Linked DNA regions of Homo sapiens: region 2 is linked to region 1. The links come from fine-mapping of genetic effects on gene expression. Tissue or cell type: whole blood. Region 1 holds a variant in brackets; the other region holds the start of a gene. All regions are shown on one strand. Distances are from middle to middle.

Region 1 (10,517 bases):
CAAAGCTATACTTACAGATTCTGATTTAATTGGTGTTGGGTGGGACCTGGCATCAGCTCTTAAAGCCCCTCTCCCAGGTGATTCTAGTGTGTAGCCAGGGATAAATAATTGCAGATAATGTGGGTTAGCAAGGGGCAGGCCACCCCTAAACCTAGAGTCTATTGCCATAGTGCCCCATACGAGAAAGAATGTGTTATCCCCACCTTGGATATCTTTTCCAGCTTTATTGAGGTTTACTTGACAAATACAAGTTGTACATATTTAAGATGTACGGTGTGATGTTTTGATGTACGTATACATTGTGAAATGATTACCACTATGAAGCTAATTAACACATCCCTCACTTCACATAGTTACCCGTGTGTGTGTGTTTCCGGAGATATATTCTCTCAGCAAATTTCATTATTATATTGTAATTATTCCAAAGCTGTTTTATGTATGTTTGACCTCCCCAAATAAGGGAAGCTCCTCAGGGACAGGGTCAGAGCCTCCTGTTAGAACATAGCAGGGTTGTGTGGATGGCGTGTCCTCAGTAGATGCTACATGCTCTGGGCTTATCTTCAAACACCTCGCCACACTGGAAGGATCACAGCCTTCTGTAGACATTACATGACAATCCTCAGAAGGAAAAGGGAGGACTGGGGACACCCCCACCATCACCAGACTGGGGACACAGAGGCTTCCCCATTAACAATAATAACTCAAAATGCCCTGAGCTGTGTCCCACATGCTCGTACTTCTGTGAGTTCCCTGGAGGTATTTCATGTATGCCTGTGCTTGAGTCCTCTCCTGCTGAACCCTGGTTTCTCTAGGGACTTGGCACAGAGCACCCCATGGCCACCAGATACCACCATCTTCCATCATATCCTGACCCTGGGGCCCTTGAAATAGCAAAGCTGCAGGGCTTTCTGGTGCAAAGTGGAAGAGAGGGGATCCCTGAACAGTCCACGGAAGCTGGGTAGGTGTGTGAATTTGAGTGAGAGGTCATCAGAGTCGCTGCCCTCTTTCCCTGCCTCAGTCATTCTGAAGGGCCCCTTCTTGTCCATTCATCAACCGTGGCTCCTTCTTTGCTTAGAATGAGTTCTCTGAGGGGAGGTTCCACCATTAATACAAATCAGGTCTGGAAAGCCATCCCATCGGTTTTCCAGACATGCCTGAGCCTTGGGTTGGATTCAAGCTGAGATCACCCCTCAAGTCACAGCAGATACACCAGTGGCAGCAGTCGGCACCTACAGGACAAGCAAGGTGCATCCAGAATCTAAAGATAAGGCTCCCCTGTCAGAGGAAAACCCATACAAGTGAACACTTCATAGATGAAACTGGCCATCTGTAGAAGTGATCTGCCTGATGAGGCAGAAAGGAAAGGGGAGAAAACTAACATTTTCTGAGCACAATTTTCTAGATTTTTTATATATTTTGGCACTGAGTGCTCACAATTCCCTTAGGTAGGTAAAATTATTCCCATTTTATAGATCAAGAAACAGAAATTCAAAGAGATCATGTGGCTGACTTTAATCTCAGGTATATTTGGTGCCACTGATCTATTTTCTGCCCCTCTAGGTTTGCCTTTTCTGGAATGTCAAATAAATGGAATCACACAGTATGTAGCCTATTACTTCTGTAGGTATTTTTGCTTCTTTCACTTAGCGGAAGGCATTTGAAAACAACCCATGTTTTTGTGTGTATCCATGGTCGATTTCTTTCTACCGCTAGGTAGTATTTCATTGTTTGGGTGTGCCACAGTTTGTTTATACATTCCTCAACTAACAGAGATTTGGGTAGCTTCCAGTTTGGGCAATTACAAGTAACTATAAACTATAACTATAGACTATAAATAACTATAAACATTCATGTACAGGTTTTGCATGACCATAGCTTTCATTTCTCCAGGAGTGAAATTGCTGGGCCATATGGTAGATGTATGCTAACTTTACAAGAAACTACCAAGTGGTTTGTAAAGTGTTTGTAGTCTTTTTGCAATCCCACCAGAGATGTATAAGAGTGCTGGCTACTTTGCACCCTAGTTATCATTTGGTATTGTCAATATTTGTTATTTTAGGCATTCTAAGAGATGTATAGTGATATATCATAGTGGTTTTAACTTGCATTTTACTAATTACCAATGATGCTGAGCATCTTTTCATGTGCCTCTTGGTCATCCATATATCTTCTGTGGTGAAACATCTGTTCATGTCTTTTGCCCTTTTTTCCCTCAAAATTTTTTACTGTGTTAAAACACACATACCAAAAGATTTATCATCTTAATGTTTTTAAGTTTACAGTTTAGTGGTTCTAAATATATTCATGATATTGTGAAACTATCCCCACTATCCATCTTCATAACTCTTTCCCTCTTGTGAAACTAAAGCTCTGCACCCGTTGAACAATAACTCCCCATTTCCCCATCCCCCTCGCCCCTGGCAGCCACCCTTCTACTGTCTCTGTGATTTTGACTACTCTAAGTATACCTCATATAAGTGGAATCGTACAGTATTTGTCTTTTGTGAGTGCTTTTGCCCTTTTTAAATGTGCTTGCTTTCTGATTGTTGGATTTTGAGAGCACTTTGTATATTCTAAGACACATGTCATTTATCAGTTATGTAACTTGCAATTATTTATGTCTTTCCATTCTCAGAACAGTGTTTTGTTTTATTTTTGTTTTTCTTGAGAGAGAGTCCTGCTCTGTTGCCCAGGCTGGAGTGCAGTGGCACAATCTCGGCTCACTGCAACCTCCGCCTCCCGGGTTGAAGTGATTCTCCTGCCTCAGCCTCTGGAGTAGGTGGGATTACAGGCGTGCTTCATTCCAGCCACGTGGCCCTTCTTGCTTCCTCTAATATGTCTATTACAGGTCTGCCTCAGGACCTTTGCACTTGCTATTGCCTCCATCTGAAATGCTCCTCCTCCAAATATCCTCATGACTCACTCCTCCATTCATTCTCTGTTAAATGTCACCTTACTTAAGAGACCCTCCCTGAAGACTCTATTTAAATGGCTCCCCAGCTCCATCTTGCTCTGCTGCTCCACCTTGATTTATTTATTCTCATGGCGTATATCACAATCTGACATAACACGTATTTGCTCATTTTTATTTATTTATTAACTGTATATTCCTTCCCCCAACAACTATCAGAATGTCAAGCTGGAGCGAGCAGGAATTTTGTCTGTTTTATGCACTGATGTATCTCCAGTGCCTAGAACAGTGCCTGCACATACTGAACTCTTAATCAAGAGTCCTCGATCTTACTGAACAAACTCAAACAATTATTACAGCGTGCCTACTAGGGACCGGGCACAGTGCTGGGCTTCGGAGATACAACGGAGAGAAAAACAGACATGGTCCCTGCCTTCATGGATCTCACAGTACAGCAAGAAAGACCAATAGTAAGTCATCAGAGAAATAAAATGGGTAATAGTTCCTGGGCCTACAAGAAGTACAGTCGGCCCTAAGTATCTGTAGGTTCCCCATCTGTGCATACAGCCAACTGTGGATAGAAAAATATTTTTTAAAATAAATAAATAACAATAAAAATAACAGTACAACAATAAAAATGTAAATAATAGAATATAACAACTATTTATATGGCATTGACATCATATGAAGTATTACAGGTAATCTACAGGTGATTTAAAGTACACAGAAGGATTGTGTACATTCTATGCAAATACTGTGCCATTTCATATAAGGGACTTGAGCATCCTAGGATTCTGGTATCCATGGGAGGTCCTGGAACCGGTCCTCTACGGATACCGAGGGACAACTGTACACAGAGCTGGGGAGCTTGTAACTTAGTCATAAGGGACCTAGTCATGGAAGTGAGAGAAGGGCTCCCAGAGGAAATGGTGATTGAACTGAGAGCTGAAGAGTGAACAGTGGCTAACCACGTGAGGAACAGGGAGAAAGGGACATCTAGCCATGTGGCATTTCATGTACAAAGACCCCATGCGTGGAAGGAGCTTAGCATGTTTGAAGAACTAAAACATGGTGAGATTGCCTAAGGGTGGTGAGTTGGGCAAGAGGGAGGCTGCAGTGGGGCTGGGGTGAAGGCAGGGCACTCTGGGGCTGGGGCAGGCAAGGTGGCGATGGCCAAGTAGGGACTGGCCTTTACCTTATGAGAAAAGGGAAGCCACTCAAGGGTGAGCTCACCTTTTTAACCACCCAGTGTATGTGGAACATAATAAACACTCAATAAAACACTAGGCTAGGCATGGTGACTCACACCTGTAATCCACGCACTTTTGGAGGCCCAGGTAGGAGGATTACTTAAGCCCAGGAGTTCAAGACCAGCCTGGGCAACATAGTGATACCTCATCTGTAGAAAACAAACAAACAAAAAAGCCTGGCATGGCGGTGCACACCTGTGGTCTCAGCTACTTGGGAAGCTGAGGTGGGAGGATCACTTGAGCTCAGGAGGTCAAGACTGCAGTGAGCCATGATTGTGCCACTGCACTCCAGCCTGAGCAACAGAGTGAGACCCTGTCTCAAAACCAACTAACTAAATAACTAACTAACTAAATAAATAAAACACTTGTATGTTGAAAACACTCTTAGATGTTAGTGGCAGTGTAAACTGGTCCCATTTCTCTGTAGGGCAATTTCAGCACATCTTTCAAAATTACAAATGTGTATACATTTTCACTTAGCAATTCTGCTTATAAGAACTTATCCTACAGATGTTTGCCCATGTATGAAAAGACATTTGTACAGGGTTATTCACTGCTGTGTTGCTTATAATAGTAGAAGAATGTAAATAAACCAGCTGTCCCTTAATAGGAGATTACTGAAAAAGTTGTGATATCTCTATGCAGTGGACTAATATGAACCATAAAAAAATGAAGACTTCTATGCATTGTTTTGAAAAGAACTCCACGATATATTAAGTTTTTAAAAATCAAAAAAGAGAGCACCAGAAGAAAAGATGTACAGTTTTTCTATACATACCATATCTCTGAAAGGAGGCATAAGAAACTGGTCTGTTACTTCCCTCTAGGGAGGGAAATCAGACAATTGGGACTGGGTTAGGAGATCCTTTTACTGAATTCTGAACCAGGCAAATATCTTACCTATTCTATATAACAAAATAAATTTACATGATAGGAATTATGGATTAAATAAACTAATGAGTTAGAAAATTAATTTATCTTTTAAACAGCTTTCAGCCAAAACTCCCCTCTGCTATTCAGACAGAAAGGATTTAGGGAGTCCTGGCCCCTACCCCACTCTCTGATTCCT[G/T]ACACAGCCCCCAAAGGGAATCCACCAACAGAGGGGCCTTTGGAAAGGGAGGTTGGATGAAAGTATTTGTTTTGGTCAATTGCATCATTTCCAGGAAAGGGCCTCCATTTTACCTTGAAATCAGGCTGTCTCAGGACCCCACAGAAACACAGTTCGGGGACTTTCCCAAACTTGTTTAATTAGGCTTCTTGCTGAAAAGCTGCGCTGTGGGTCTCTAAAGCAGTAACTGGCCTCTAGAGATGCAATCATCTCTCCACAGGGAACTCTCATGAAAAAGTCTGATACTCAGTGCTTTCCTGAATAAAAATAAGCATCCAAAAGTATTTGCAATATCAGGAAAAGCAGAACAAAGCGGGTAAGGCTGGAATGTCTTGAGCTTCTCAACTGCAATGACCAAAGAGTTGATCTGTGAGTTCTGATTAAATTCCAGTAAAAAGGGCACTTGACAGTGAGGGCCACTCAATTTCATCACCCTGGCTTGATGACAGAGGATGAAAGAGAGGCCAGGGGCTCACCTCCAGAAGGAGTTTCCTGTCCCTCTGGGTGGGGGAAGTAGGCTCCCGGTGCTGATGAAGGGAGGCTGCTGTGAGCTGTGCCCTGGAGTCCCCTCTAGGAAGTCTGAGGCACAGACCAGGAGAGAGGGCCTAGGAGGGACCAGTAAAGGACGAAGCAACAGAAAAGAGTGAGAATAAGTGAAGGATGGGAATCTTCAACCCGCAGCCTCTGTTTGTTCTATAAAGTGGTCATTTGTATAACAATTCTATGGAGAAGGATTACTGCCCTCAGCCCCCACCCCCATTCTACTGATGAGGAAACTGAGGCTGAGACAAGTGTACTCGCTTGCCTAAGGTCTCACACCTCACTAGTGTCCAGGTCAGGATACGAGCCCAGGTCACTCTGATGCCAGGATCCCTTCTCTTGCTTCCAGGGCAACTTTAATATAATCAGAAGAACCCATGTTTGAGTCAACAATAAACATTTAGCTCTGAAGAAACTGTGCCATTTTCCTTTTAAATATTATATCTTAATATGCTATTGGTACAGGCGAATAATTTCCACCGCAAAAACAAAGAAGATGAATTCCTCTTTTTTTCTTTCCTTCTCGCCTCTCCTATGAGCTGGAGGGGGAAACTCAAGTCCTTTTACCAGTTGACAAGACAAAAGAAAATACCCAAGATCCCCAGCATAGCCAGAGTTCCTCTTGGAGGCAGGATCAGACTGCTGCAGCCACTTGGGCCATTCTAGATGCCAAAAGCTTTCCTCAGGGACAACATTTGGAGTCAACACCAGTATATTTTCCTTGCTGGGGCTTTCTATAAACTGTGTCTTTCGCCTCACCTGAAGACAAAACTGGGGAAAACAACCTTACCTTAGCCATGCAGACTTGGATTAGACACAGCAAAGAACTTCCTGACAATGAGTGATGGATGTGGGATCAAAATATGGGTAATTAAGGAAGGACAGACTTGGAATAAGTTGGTTGGTGATATGGTTTGGCTGTGTCCCCACCCAAATCTCATCTTGAATTGTAGCTCCCATAATTCCCACATGTTGTGGGAGGGACCTGGTGGGAGATAACTGAATCATGGGGGCATTTTCTCCCATACTGTTCTCGTGGTAGTGAATAAGTCTCATGAGAGCTGATGATTTTGTAAGGGGTTTCCCCTTTCGCTTGGCTCTCACTTTCTCTCTTGTCTTCTGCTGCGTAAGACATGCTTTTCACCTTCCGCCATGATTATGAGACATCCCCAGCCACAAGGAACTGTGAGTCCATTAAACCTCTTTTTTGTTATAAATTACTCAGTCTTGGATATGTCTTTATTAGCAGCATGAGAACAGACTAATACAGTTGGGAATGTGCCGTGCGTGTAGTCTAGACTTAGTGGATTGAGGTTGAGCTGATTTGTTGATTATCTCTCACCATCTCCTGCAAGCACCCTGCCATCTAGTCTGAGTCTCCTCCCAGGCCCACATTTAATTATACCTCTAGCTGACCCCACCATCTGAAATGCCTTCTCCTCAGGTGAGACAGGACTGCCTCAATCCTGTCTGCCTTTCAAGGTATAGCTCAATTTCCTGGGTCTGCTCGAAGCTTTCTCTGACCACTCCAGCCCATATCAATCTGCCCCTCGGAATTCTAGGTAGTCTGGGCCTTAGTCATGGTCATCTGGGTAGAGGGTAGCTGGTTCCTGGGAAGCCGGATGGGGGTGTTGTTATCAGAGAGAGAGGGAAAGGGCACGGGAGAGAAGAAGGAGTGACTATCATAGCTGTCTATCCTGAAACACAAGCTACATGATGATTGTCCACTCTGCCATGAGCCTGCCACACCAACCACATGACAGCTGTCCACTATGCCATGAGCCTAGCTTGCCTAGCTTAGCTACAAGACAACTGTCCATGCTGCTGTGAGCATGCCACACCAGTCACATGACAACTGTCCGGTTTGCCTCGAGTCTGCCACATGCAATCATTTGACCCACATTTACCTTCCAGGTGGGCTCTTCTGGGAAGAGGGGTCCTGAAAGCACACATACATATTTGCCAACAACATTTCCCAAACAATGTCAAATCACGAAGTTAGCACTCTGAGGCACACTCATGTTATGTTGGTTTGCAGCACAGCTAGCTTCTCTAGCATCCAATCACCCTGCTACAGTTATATGTTACCGCTTGAAAGATGCACTCGCATATAAGATTTCGTTTTATCCTCATAACAACTCCATAAAGCCCATCTTATAGATGAGAAAACAGACTCAGGCAGAGTGGGTGGTTTGTGCCAGTTCACATGGCTAAAAGGCAGCAGAACTAGCACTAGAGTCCAACCTCTTCAGCCCTTGGCCAGGGCACTTTTCATGATACCATCCATGCTCATCCCCAACTCTGCCCCCACGAGGTGCACACAGAGTGGGCATTCCCTGTATTACCAATTGACAGGTGACCAGCTGGTCAATGTTGGTGCCAGTTAGAATTCCGACTTCTGACCATAACACAGAAATACTCCTACTCATTCACATATTGGTCTCGCATTAGTATTCTATTGTCCATATACCCTATACGAGAGCATCAGATTCACCTCAATTATTTCCTGCAGTTCACACCAAAAGCAGGAGATGGACCAGCCCAGCACACCAGGCTCCGGGTGCCATGCACCTTCTGCTATCTAAGCTGAGCCAAGAAACCCCAAACTGTCCATCTCTAGTCACTCGGCTGTCTTGGATGATTCCTGACCTGCCCTCCTTCAGGCTAATCTCAGCCAGACCCCAAGAACTTGACTCCAAGTTTTTGCTAAAACAAGCTTGCCTCTGTTCTCTGGTCTCTCCAGCATCTGACTCTTGGCTTTTCCAGATAGACTTTGGCTTGGTCTTGCTTCCTGGTACCAGAAAACAGGGTGCAATGGGTCTCTACATAAATTAATTAATGTTTTCAAGGTGCTTGGAACAGTGGCTGGCACATAGTAAACACAATATAAGTGTTTGCTATTGTTATACCTGCTTAGAATACTACATCCCAAACACTTAATCCAGGCTTCCCAATCCCTTGGTATAAAGTCCCAAACCATTGCACAGCTCTGGCTGAGCTCTCTGAGGTCATCGTCCATGACTCTCCTCCTTGTGCTCTGAAATACCTCGACTTCCTTTAGGTCCATGAAGATGCTACACCCTTTCCACCATAGAGCTTTGCCTTGCTGTTTTCTCCATTAAAATACTCTTCATTTCCTGACCCCATCCCGCTTCCATCCCCCTGCCCAAAAACACTCATCGTTCAATTCTTAGCTGGAATCTTACTTCCCCTGGGAGATCTTCCCTGTGTCCATTCACCGCTCCACCCATCAAGATTAGGTTGGATCTCCATGTTACACTTTCCTATAGCATCCCTTAGTGATTATTCTAAATGGGCATATAGTTGCTTCTTTCATGTTTGTCTTCCCCCTGGACTGTAAGCCTCATGAGAACAGGAACCGTATTTAAAGATGCATTACTGTCTCCTCAGTGCCTGCCACAATGTTTAGAATGACTAGGGGCTCAAAAACATATTGAATTGTATTGAACTGAATCAAGATGGAATGAAAAATGATAGTGGCATTGATGCCAATGAAAATAATGAACTTAAAGCTTACTGCGCTATTATTTATTTGCTAGATTTGTCATGACCTGCTGAAAACCAGAACCTTGAATCCAATCAGTAATTAAAGGGTGAAGAATGGAGGAAACAAATTATAAAATCAATACTTCTTTGGGCAACAGCATCTTTAACTATTGCTACCATTTCATTCATTAAAGCTGAAAGGGAGAGATGAGGGTCCCGGTTATCAGGGATCAAATGACAACCAGCAAGTTACTCATCCCTGATTGGTCAATCCAGAAGGCGCTGAACTTTGCCTTGTACACAAAGACATTGCCTGGCATTATCAGTGCTGCCATTTGAGGAGTGTTGAGATTATCTTCACCAACCCAAACAAATGTGAAACAATGCACAAGGAAAGTAAAGGGAACAACAGCTCACCCGCCTTTTCACAGTGATGGTTTCTGTCTTCCAGAGCCCAAGGTTCAACTCACTTCCAGTCAACAGGGACCCACCAAGTCCCTCTCTCTGCCTACAACTGTTCATTGAGTAACTTCTAATTTGGATGATGAGCACTTGAGGGCTCACTCCACAACATCCATCAGTCCTGATTGTTCCTAGTAGTTTTTCCCACTGACAGCAGCATCATCTACTCTCTATGAGGTGCCCTCTGGGGTCTGACTCAGGCTGGATGACACAGCTGGGTGATTGATTATTTTGATGCAGACACACAACTTTCTGCAACTGTATTTCTGCCTTCTGCTTCCCAGAGCCAGAACCTTTCCCCTCAACTTTTTCTTTTTACTTCATCCACAGTGGTTGTGTAAGGGGTTTTAGCCACCCATAATTCTATCAGGCCACTCCAAAGCAACCTCATATAAATATGCAGTCCATAAAAAGCAATAAGAGGCCAGGCACAGTGGCTCACGCTGTAATCCTAGCACTTTGGGAGACCAAGGCTAGCAGATCACTTGAGGCCAGGAGTTCAAGACCAGCCTGGCCAACATGGCAAAACCCCATCTCTACTAAAAAAAACAAAAATTAGCTGGGTGTGGTGGGACACCTCTGTAGTCCCTGCTACTCAGGAGGCTGAGGCAGGAGAATCACTTGAACCCTCAAGGCGGAGGTTGCAGTGAACCAAGATCAGGCCACTGCACTCCAGCTTGGGCAACAGAGTAAGACTCTGTCTCAAAAAAATAAAAATAAAAAGCAATATGAGTGCTGC
Region 2 (10,517 bases), 37 kb after region 1:
TTCGCTCTGCTCAAGCTATTGGAAAGTCCCTCCAGTTCTGAGTTAAAATTCCCCGCTGTAAAGTTCTACTCACTCCACAAAGAGCTCTACTCTTTGGGACAAAATCTTCCCTCACCTCCTCCCAAGCCCAGCTTTTCATTATTCACAGTCAACTATCCCAGCCCCTCCCTAGTCCCTTTTCCAATGTAAGCAGCGGGGAGGTGCTGTCGCCTCTCAAAGTGTCTCTGTCCCACTTGCCCTCCTCTCAACACACGTACCTTTATTTTTGATACCACTCTTAAACCTGCTGTCCCATGGGAAAACAACAGTTTGGCCATGCTCTGACCAACTCCACAGGCAGTGGCCCTGTCACCTCCTTTGACCTGGGAATTCAAGGAATGCAGCTCAGACTGCTTCTCTGCTGGGGCCCTCACGTGGCCCTGGCATTTGGCTCAAAGGCATTTTTCCATGTGCTGCTCTTTTTTTCTTTTTTCTTTTTTTTTTTTTGAGACGGCATTTCGCTCTCGTTCCCCAGGCTGTAGTGCAATGGCGCAATCTTGGCTCACTGCAACCTCTGCCTCCCGGGTTCAAGCAATTCTCCTGCCTCAGCCTCCCCAGTAGCTGGGATTACATGTCCATGCCACGATGCCCGGCTAATTTTTCTATTTTTAGTAGAGACGGAGTTTCGCCATGTCGGCCAGTCTCAAACTCCTGACCTCAGGTGATCCACCTGCCTTGGCCTCCCAAAGTGCTGTGATTATAGGTGTGAGCCACTGCACCCGGCTCCATGAGCTGTTCTTAAGTCTCTTTCCCCATCTTTTATTTTATGAGGTCATTCCAGAGTCACAATCTGCCACCATCCTTAGGGGGGTCTGTTATATCAACTCAATTCAACAAAATAAGAGCACAGAAACAGTCACACCCCAGGTAAACACAGGGTAAAGACAAAGAGAAAGACAGTAACCCTATATACTGTAAGCATCAGTCAACTACGCCATGCCATTCAGAGCATCTAGCACCTGTACAACTCTGGACCCAGCCCTAGGACCACAGAGATGAACAGTCTGGTGTACCTAGCTCTCTGACCCAGAGCCTTCTGCAAAGCCGATGGCTCCCATCCAGGGAATGAGTAGGACATGCCAAGTTTGAGAGCTTTTCATGTTACCTCATTTAATCCTCACAACAATATTTTAAGGGAGGTATCATTAGTCCCATTTTATAGATGAGGAAACTGAGGCCCTGAGAGGTTAAGTAATTTGCCAAGAGCAACAAGGCTAGTATAGAGCAAGGCCCGGAATAGAACCTAGGTCTATTTGATTCCAAAGACTATGCCCTTATCTGCTTCGTGAATCTACCTGCTATGTCTGAGCCACTCATAAAAATACTGACCAGATCAGGGCTAAGGACCCCACAAAGAACTCTGGCAGGGTTCATGCATGACCAGGTTCAAGCACTTATAAAGGCACTTGACTGCACTATTATCCAGTACTCCTCAATCTTCTCTACAAAACCTTGCTCCATGCCTTTCTGAAACCCAAGGACATCGTCTGCAGCTTCCCCCTGCATATAGATGGAAAAAAAAAATCAAAAGAAAGAAAGAGTCACCAGGCTGACATCAATTACACAGATAAAGGAAAGGAGCAACTAAAGAAATGCTTAACAACAAAGCTCTTACCAAATCCAAAGGAGAATATGACAGAATTTTTAAAAAGAGAAAATAAAGCTACAAAGGGAATTTCCTGGAAGCCAAGTGTTATCACTGGCACAGATGTTGAGAAGCAGGCCCACAGTCCCATTTAACCCCACTGTCCTTTTCCCTAATCTATGTCCCGATATAGGCACCTAAAAATAAGTGGGAAAAAGTCATATATTAAAAAAAGACGAAAGAATGGAACTGCAGAAAATAACCAGAAATTATGCCCTATTGAGCACTGATACACGCTAAATTAAGCCTGCACAGGCCATTTTTTAAATATGCAATTACTCTTCTTGAAGGGAAAAGTTGAAAAATAGGAATGGAGTGGTTTTGCTTCCCACCCCCACCCACTCCAGGGCTCCATCTTGCACATCTGTGTTCTCCCAAGCTAGCAATGGGGCAGCAATCCCTGCCTCCCCCAGTCCCTCTCCTACATAGCCAAGGCTCTAAAGTCCCCTCACCCCCTCCCTGCCCCCTTCATCCCTGTTGGCATTACCTTGGTTCCCAGCTTTGTACCCATACCTGGCTGGGACTATCCGAATACCTCCTGATCTGTCTCCCTCCTTCCAGCCCAATCCACATGGTGCCACCCAAGAACACTTCCTAAAAAGCACACCCTGTCACTCCCCTTCCTCAGAACCTCTGTAGAGAGTTCTCTACCCATGGCCTTCTGAGATCTGTTTCAATCCCTCTCATCAGTCTCCCCTCCTGCTGTCCTTCCCACACTTCCTGCATTTTAGCCACAGACTGAACTTGGAGGACTCTGGGATCAGACAGTCTGGGTTCAAATCCTGGTTCTATCACCTGCTAGTTCTAGGACCCTGGACGAGTTTCTTAACTTCTATCTCGAAGTCTGTTCCCCATCTGTCAATGCGGTCCCTAATAAATAGTATTTCCTACATAGGACTGTTGTAAGGATGAAATAACGCTCCTAGACTACTAAGCATGATGCCTGGCACACACTACATGTTTCCTACTAACTGTTATTGTTAATACCATCTCTGAAACATGCTGTGCTTTCCCCTACCTTGACTTCTTCACCTGCCTCAAGAATTCCCCTTCATCCTTAGAGATCCAGTTCCCTGTCACCTCCTTCAGGCTTTCATCCCATGCTGTTCACACCCCTATTACAGTCATCACACTGCTCTGTAATCACTTATTGTGATTATAATCGATGTGACAGAACTTAGAGCAGGTTTTGGAGACAAAGAACCCTAGTTTAAAAGCCTACCTCTGCTATCTACTAGCTGTGTAATCCTGGCCAACCTGGTTGACTTCTCTGGACTTCTGCTTCCCCCACTGTAAACTGGAGAAAAGAATAACCCACCTCACAGGGGTTTTGTAAAGACCAACCTAGCTAACTTATGGAAAGTGCCTAGCACAGGGGCTGGCACATCTTAAGTGCTTGAACATCTTTTTTTTTTTTTTTTTGTCCTGAGACAGGGTCTCACTCTGTCACCCAGGCTGGAGTACAGTAGCATGATCAGGGATCACTGCAGTCACAACTGCCCGGGCTCAAACGATTCTACCTCAGCCTCTCAAGTGGCCGGGATCACAGGCACACGCCACCACGTCTGGCTAATTTTTTTAATTATTTATAGAAACGAAGTCTTACTATGTTGCCCAGGCTGGTCTCAAAATTCTAGGCTCAAGTGATCCTCTTTCCTCAGCCTCCTACGGTGCTGAGATTATGGGCATGAGCCACTGCGCCCAGCGTTGAACATCTTACCCTTTCCTACTTTATTTGGCTTTCTGTTCCTTGCTGACTGTAAGCTTCTGAAGAACAAGAAACTATACTGTATTAGTTCAACACCTGTGAAATGAAGGGAAATTAGTAAGAAAAATATATATACGGTTATTAGTCACTCCTCCACAGTTTATAGTACCTGAACCATAACAGAAGTTCCATAGATGTCAATTGATTCCCAAGTTACCAGAGGAAACTAAAGCCAGCAGGAAACTGTCCTGAAGTCAAGAACCTATGGCAGGTGAACCCAGAAAACATTACGCTAAGTGAACAAACCCAGTCACAAGGGGCTACTTAATGTATGATTCCATTTATACGAAACATCCAGAATAGGCAAAAGTACAGAGACAGAAGTACATTGGTGGTTGCCTAGGGCTGGGAGAATGGGAGTAGATGGGAGGGGGGAGTGACAGCTAAAGGAGGTGTTTCTTTTGGGGGGTAATGTTCTAAAACATTATGGTGACAGCTGCACAACTCTGCAAACACACTAAAAGACACTGAATTGTGCACTTTAGATGGGTGAACTGTATGCTTCGTGAATTATATCTCAATAAAACTTTTTAAAACAATAACCACAAAAAGGATCAATCCTAGGAGCGAAAGGGTTTTGGCCACGGAGCAACTTGCTCTTACGCAGAAGCATAAATCATCACGACAAGGTTGCTCCGGCCACCGGGTGCCGCGGGCAGAGGGACGGTGGAGGGGACATTCTCCTTTTAAAAGTGGCCAGGCCCGTGAGCCTCTGAGAGGCTGGCCTCCGGGCTGCCCCGGACCTCGCGCCCCTAGCTCGCGCTGCAGGCCTTTCCTGCTCCTCCGAGGCCGCCCGGCCAGGCCTGCGTCAAGCCCGGGCGCCGCGCTCCGGTGCACTCAGCTCTCCGGTGGAAGAGCGCAGACCGCAAGGGAAAAGGTGCCGGCGCGGGTCGCCCCTAGGTCTTCAATAGATCCGAGGACACCCGAGGCCTCCACATCCCTAGCCCGCCCCCGCCACCCAGTGGCTCCGGCCGCCGCTGCCCCCGCGCCCCCGCCCTCGGCCTCGGCCTGCGCAGCGCGGCTCACCAGCCTCCAGGGGAACGCCAGCCCCGGACGCCGCCGCGGCGACGAGTGCGCCTGCGCCCCGGGGACTGAGCGGCACCGCCCCTGCCCGGCGACGGTGAGCCCAGCGCCCTCTGCCGGCCGCGCGCGGGACTCGGGGTCCTACTGGGTGCCTCTTCCTAGATCCGACCCCACCCAGTTGAAAGCTGTCCCCACTAACAGCCTTCGTTACCTGTTACCTCAAACACCCACTCTGCCTTCTGGCTGTTGCTACGCCGGATATAAGCCCTAAAGGCACTCTCTCCTCCTTATTCCTGAATATGGATTGTGCTATGAATATGGGGTGTTCAAGATCTCTGAAAGGCTTGCTGGAGGACTTTTCCTGAACCTCTCGTGTTGATGACAAGAATTGTGTTTGGATAGGAATCTGCGTTTTGAATCATTTCACCAAATTACAGTCCCATAACACCTGTCAAAAGAATAAATATGACAGTAATAAGCATGCTTCCTTTCAGACCCATCTATAATTATAATTGAGGAAAATAATACAAAATTTAAACTTAGAGCTACTGCCAGTATCATTCTTTGAAAATGAAATAATGCTGTTTATTAAATAGGCTCTCCCTGCTCTCTAATGTTTAAAGCTCAAGTGCTTCTCTGAATTGATTTAAATACAAGTTTTATATCCTGAAAGAAATCAAGATGAGTCATTATCTTAAGACAAACCCCCCTGTTCAATGATGCTGCTGATCTCTCAGCTGATGTCTAAGCGGGAGTTAGGTTGTTAGTGGATAATATTGCTTCTGTTCACGTCTCTCTTCTCCAGGGCTTTTTAAACCTGTTTGTAACGAAAAGGCTGATTTCCTTCAGACTCCATGTGTCGTTGATTTAACAGGACAACTTCTTACAGGTTTTTCTTTTTCCTTTTTCTTTTTTTTTTTTTAAGTAAAACATTGCTCCCCGGTGGCACCTGGGAATCTGTTTTTCTTCTCTTAGGATAAGAGAAGCAGGGATATTTCTTAACGGAAGTTTTGTTTTGTTCCTAACTCCCTTTAGAGCTTCCTCTTTTCTTTTTTTTTCTCTTCACCTAACATACTAGACTTCCCTCAAATCGGGGGTGGGGGATGGGAAGGTGGGGTTCCCTCCCTTGAAATATTCAGATAATTGCTTCCATTTATTTTAAAGATGTAGACTTGGACAAATATATCTGAAAGATACAATTGTACCCTCATAAATCAGCCCTCTTATTTACACATGCATAATCAAGGGCACGTCATTAATGCAGAGCCAATCAATAAATCATTAAGCTTTTAAAGCCCTTATTAAGAACAATCTGCAGTAACATCATCCACTCCTGTGCTCAGTCTTAGGATCATTTAATAATTTTAAGAAATTTCACAGTCTGTTCTGTAGTCTCATCTCCCTTTTGTTCCTAGATAGCTGTATTCCTGCATCAGAAACATGGTTCTAATACCTAGATCTCATAAAATATTGAAGATGCAAGCTGTTTGCTTTACCTCTGAAAGGCTCCACCTTCAGAATCACTTGTGCCTCTTCCAATTTTACAAACGCACAAGATTTTAACTTTCACAACAATTTCTTATAAACATCCAAATACTAAGAAAAAAAAATCCAAAGTAGGAGAGATTTGAACAATAATCTCTAATTTTTTTTCCAAGTCACAATGGAAACCTAGATTTGAAAATAATTGAATTTGAACCTTTCAACTTGACAGCAACCTTAGGTTCTTACAGCTTCAATAGTAAAATGAAATAATTTTTACTAGTCCAAACATTCACTTAAAATGACACCAGTCTCATAATCTGATAAAACCCCAACCATTTTTACCATGTCATTTTCCTATACACTGAAATTTTAGCAGATGAACCCCCTTATGTCAGACAGTGCATGATATTTACAGATAAACAAAATAGAAAGACCTTTTACTTGAGAAATTAGTCACCCACTGTCCAGGGGACATGTTCGCACAGGGGAGTTTATTGACTTTCCTAAGAAATACACCACATTCTCTTGATTTCTGACATTATGTCATTTAGCCTGACAACTGCAGATTTGTAACCAGTATTTGTAGGGAAAGATACAAGAAGTCCTGACGTTTCCAGTTTAAACCTGTTTTTAGATTTCAAAGAGAAATGATAACGTTTGCATCCTCTGATTAAATCAGGTTATTGTCTCCAAGGGTGACCATGTAAATAATTCAAATTAATTCATCAGTGTACAATAGGTTTAATAAGCATAATAAACACTTTTAAGAAAATACTTAAGACCCTCGGTCTGCCCTCGATCTTGCTCCCTATTATCTCAGATTTCCCTGAGAACAGAATGAGTGGTACCACGTTGTTCTCTTCTATTCAAAATATGCAAAGCTGCTATTTACCAGCTTGCAATTTGCATGTCTCAAATCCTGCCAGAACACAGGGTGAGGGCCATGGGGTGATGGGTGAATATGCCAGAAGAGGACACCAGGGGCGAAAATGGAAAATGGGGTGAACAGATTTTCCTTACCCCAGCGTATTGCAAAACACAACTCTTGCTGACTACTCAAGATTTAAGACAATAAAAATATTGGGTATGAAAGGTTATGTGAAATCTCAGACATCTAGTTTGTTTTTCTTTAATTGCTGGGCAAAAGAAAGGGATGAGCAAGGATTTCAATATTTTTATAAAAGGGAACACAAGAGGAAAAAGGGTACAATTGTGACTATTTACAACATACACTTGGAGATTAATTTATGGGCTGGGTTTCAGCCTTCCTGGTCCTCCATACTATGTTACTTTCTGCAGCACCATAAATCCAACTTTGCTGACTGGTATATGTCATTCTCTGTTTCTAGTGTGTTCTGTAGTAATTTATTAACAGTGACCACATGTGAAACCACATTGGTGATCAGATGTATGTTATCTCTGAATATGTCCCCACTTTTTTTATCTCTTGAAAATATGTTCTATGTCTCATGATTTCAAATTGTAAATAACATACACACATACACATAATGTTTTGTATGAATCACCTTTGGAATGGAATTTCTTTTTCATAAAAATTTCAAGTGCATGCTGGATGTGTATGTGGCAATATTACCAAAGGAGTGAATGCGCTTGGGAACATTCTTCTTTTTTGCATTTTGACAGCATTTGACTAAAGATCCACTTAAAATTACCTTGCTCACAAAGTGTAATTCTGTTTCCACTGACTATATCTGCAGTGTCTTGAGATGTCCAGAGACAAGAATTACATGCCACCATTAATAGGAATGGAGACGGTAAGAAATAATCAACTTTATTAAATAGGATTATTTGAAGAAAGAGGAGAGACAAAGGGGTGAAGAGGAGAAGGAGAGAAAGAAGAAAGTGAAAAGGAGGGAAGTGGAGAATAAGTAAAAGTAGAAGGGAGTTATCCTGTTGATGCTGTCCCCAAGAGAAAGGGATGATAGAGTTTTAAGTGTAGCAGCCCAGAAAAAAAAAAAAAGGCAACGTTAATGAAGGGAAATCATTTATCGGCTTGGCCAGGAAATTGGGTGTTCTGGTCAGTCAACTACATGGTTAATAGTTACCTTCCACTTCAGCAAACATCTGTTGAGACTCCTTCATGTGCAAAACTCCATGCAAGACCCTGGGTCATAGCGGAGGCCTCTGAACTCTATCCCTGCCATGCGGGCTCTCCTGTCCTTCTCCACTATGGTTAGAGACAGGTATAGTCTTGTCGCTGTCCTGCTGTAGTCCCCTTAATGACTTCTCCGTGTTCTCTGAATACATACGCCAAACTCCTTACCATGTCCTATGAGGCCCTCCAGGGTCTGGCCTCTTAAGCTTCCATCCATGTCCCCGTCCTCTGTAGCAGCCACAGTGGCCTTTCAGACACTCATTGTATCGTGTCCTTCTGCCCTGCTCCTCCTTTAGATCCCAGCTAATAGATCTCTTCCTCGCCTTCCCTGACATCCACATTCCCACCCCATAATGGAGCAGGTCCCCCCACCCAAAGAGTAGACTGTACTTTTCTCCATGGCATGCATCACAATTTATAGTTACATATACCCCAATTTGGACTCCCCCCAGAGAGGCCCCCAAAGCAAGGATTTGAGAACAACTAGTTCATTTGAAAGGTGGTTCTAGAAAACACTAAGTGAGAAAATAGGGAAGTGAGGCTGGGTACAGTGGCTCACACCTGTAATCCCAGCACTTTGGGAGGCCAAAGTGGGTGGATCTCCTGAGATCAGGAGTTCAAGACCAGCCTGGTCAACATGATGAGAGCCCCATCTCTCCTAAAAATACAAAAATTAACTAGCCAGGCATGGTGGTGATAGCTTGTAATCCCAGCTACTCAGGAGGCTGAGTCAGGAGAATCGTTTGAACCCAGGAGGCGGAGGTTGTAGTGAGTGCGCCCTTACACTCCAGCCTGAGCGACAAGAGTGAAACTCCATCATAAAAAAAAAAAAGAAAGAAAAGAAAAGAAAGAAAGGAAGGAAGGAAGCGGGGAAGTGAGGCAAGGAAAAGAAGGCAGCCTGTGAAGAGAGCCTTCCCAAGCAAGTTACCACCAGGGACCACTGAGCTTCGTCCTGCTGGGGAAACAGTGTGGAACCCACACCTTGGTTATCCCACCCTGGGGTATTTATACACCAATTCCTGTTTGTTACAGGTCACACAGTGCTCTCGGGGGCACTAACTCCCTGGTACTTCTAGCCTGCCATGATCTCAGGCAAAGAGATACAGATGCTGGCAGTTGGAAATCAGCCGGGTATACTGCAGTGGTAAGGCGAAAGGGTGGGGCACTGACAGTTGTGGTAGTTACATATACATGGACATTTACACATAATACATACATATATATGTGTGGGTACATGTAGATAGATATGCATTTGTGTTATTATATCAGTCATATCTCTCTCTGCACTAGAGCCCCATGAGTGAGAGCTGGGACTGAGTAGCAGTATCCCACCCAGTGCCTAGGCCTCACTTCCTGTGGTCCACCATTAAAATCACTCTCTTACCAACACCCTCAACTCCCTGGTTCCTCTTGGCCTCTGTCACACTCACTCTGGATGAATCTACCATCCTCCTTCTCCAACCTGCACCCAAGCAGATTAATGCTGAGAAAATTACACAACAGAGCTGATGGGTTTTACTTTAAATTTATGATCCAATCCTCAAAGGCATAATGGATGTTGCCTGGGAAGAAAATAACTCTGTTTCTCAGAACTCCTACACCCCACCTCCACCCTCAGTCTCAGCAGAGGACCTCACTGAAAGATAGACATCATCAGATCTTCTTCTCACTCCTTCCCCTTCTTTCCTGATATGCTGTGGAAAGTTTCCTTCTGCCTTTGAAAAACCGGTCCTTGGCTGGGCGCGGTGGCTCATGCCTGTAATCCCAGGACTTTGGGAGGCCAAGGCAGGCAGATAACCTCAGGTCAGGAGTTTGAGACCTGCCTGACCAACATGGAGAAACCCCATCTCTACTAAAAATACAAAATTAGCCGAGCATGGTGGCGCATGCCTTTAATCCCAGCTACTGGGCAGGCTGAGGCAGGAGAATCGCTTGAACCCAGGAGGCGGAGGTTGCAGTGGGTGGAGGTTGAGGTGGGCAGAGGGTGCGGTGAGCTGAGATCACGCCATTGCACTCCAGCCTGGGCAACAAGAACAAAACTCCATCTCAAAAAAAAAAGAAAAAGAAAAAAAAACGGTCCTTCTGCTGGTTCCCTGGATTCAATCCCTGTGTGTTCCTCAAATCTTTGCTCCTAGAGTTATCCCCTCTCTCCTGCTTCATTAATCACCCCCTTTCCACCTGTTCATTCTAAGCAACATACCAATGTGATCGAGGGACTTGCTACTCAAAATGGGATTCATGGATCAGCAGCCTGGGCCTCACCTGGGAGCTTGTTAGAAATGCAGAATCTCCCACCTGGGCCTGCAGAATCAAAATCTGCATTTAGCAAGATCCCAAGATGGTTCCCAGGCACATCAAAGTCAGACAAGCAATGGGCTAGGGGTTCCCATTAAAACAAATTAACAGAAAGCACACATATCCACATCCCACACCCATATGAG

What was found. PIP is the estimated chance that this variant, and not a neighbour inherited with it, causes the effect.
Region 2: it holds the start of LYRM9, and the variant in region 1 is fine-mapped to the expression of LYRM9 in whole blood (TOPMed, PIP above 0.99).

What each region holds. Positions count from the first base shown.
Region 1 is chr17:27,851,523-27,862,039 of GRCh38, forward strand. LOC124903961 (a long non-coding RNA gene) reads right to left here and starts at 5,207. Exons shown (of 2, transcript XR_007065681.1): 1 at 4,940-5,207; 2 at 3,075-3,482. The variant G/T (reference allele first, on the strand shown) is at 5,231.
Region 2 is chr17:27,888,839-27,899,355 of GRCh38, forward strand. LYRM9 (LYR motif containing 9) reads right to left here and starts at 4,527. Exons shown (of 4, transcript NM_001076680.3): 1 at 4,479-4,527. RefSeq lists enhancers at 1-196, 197-1,148 and a silencer at 4,159-4,708.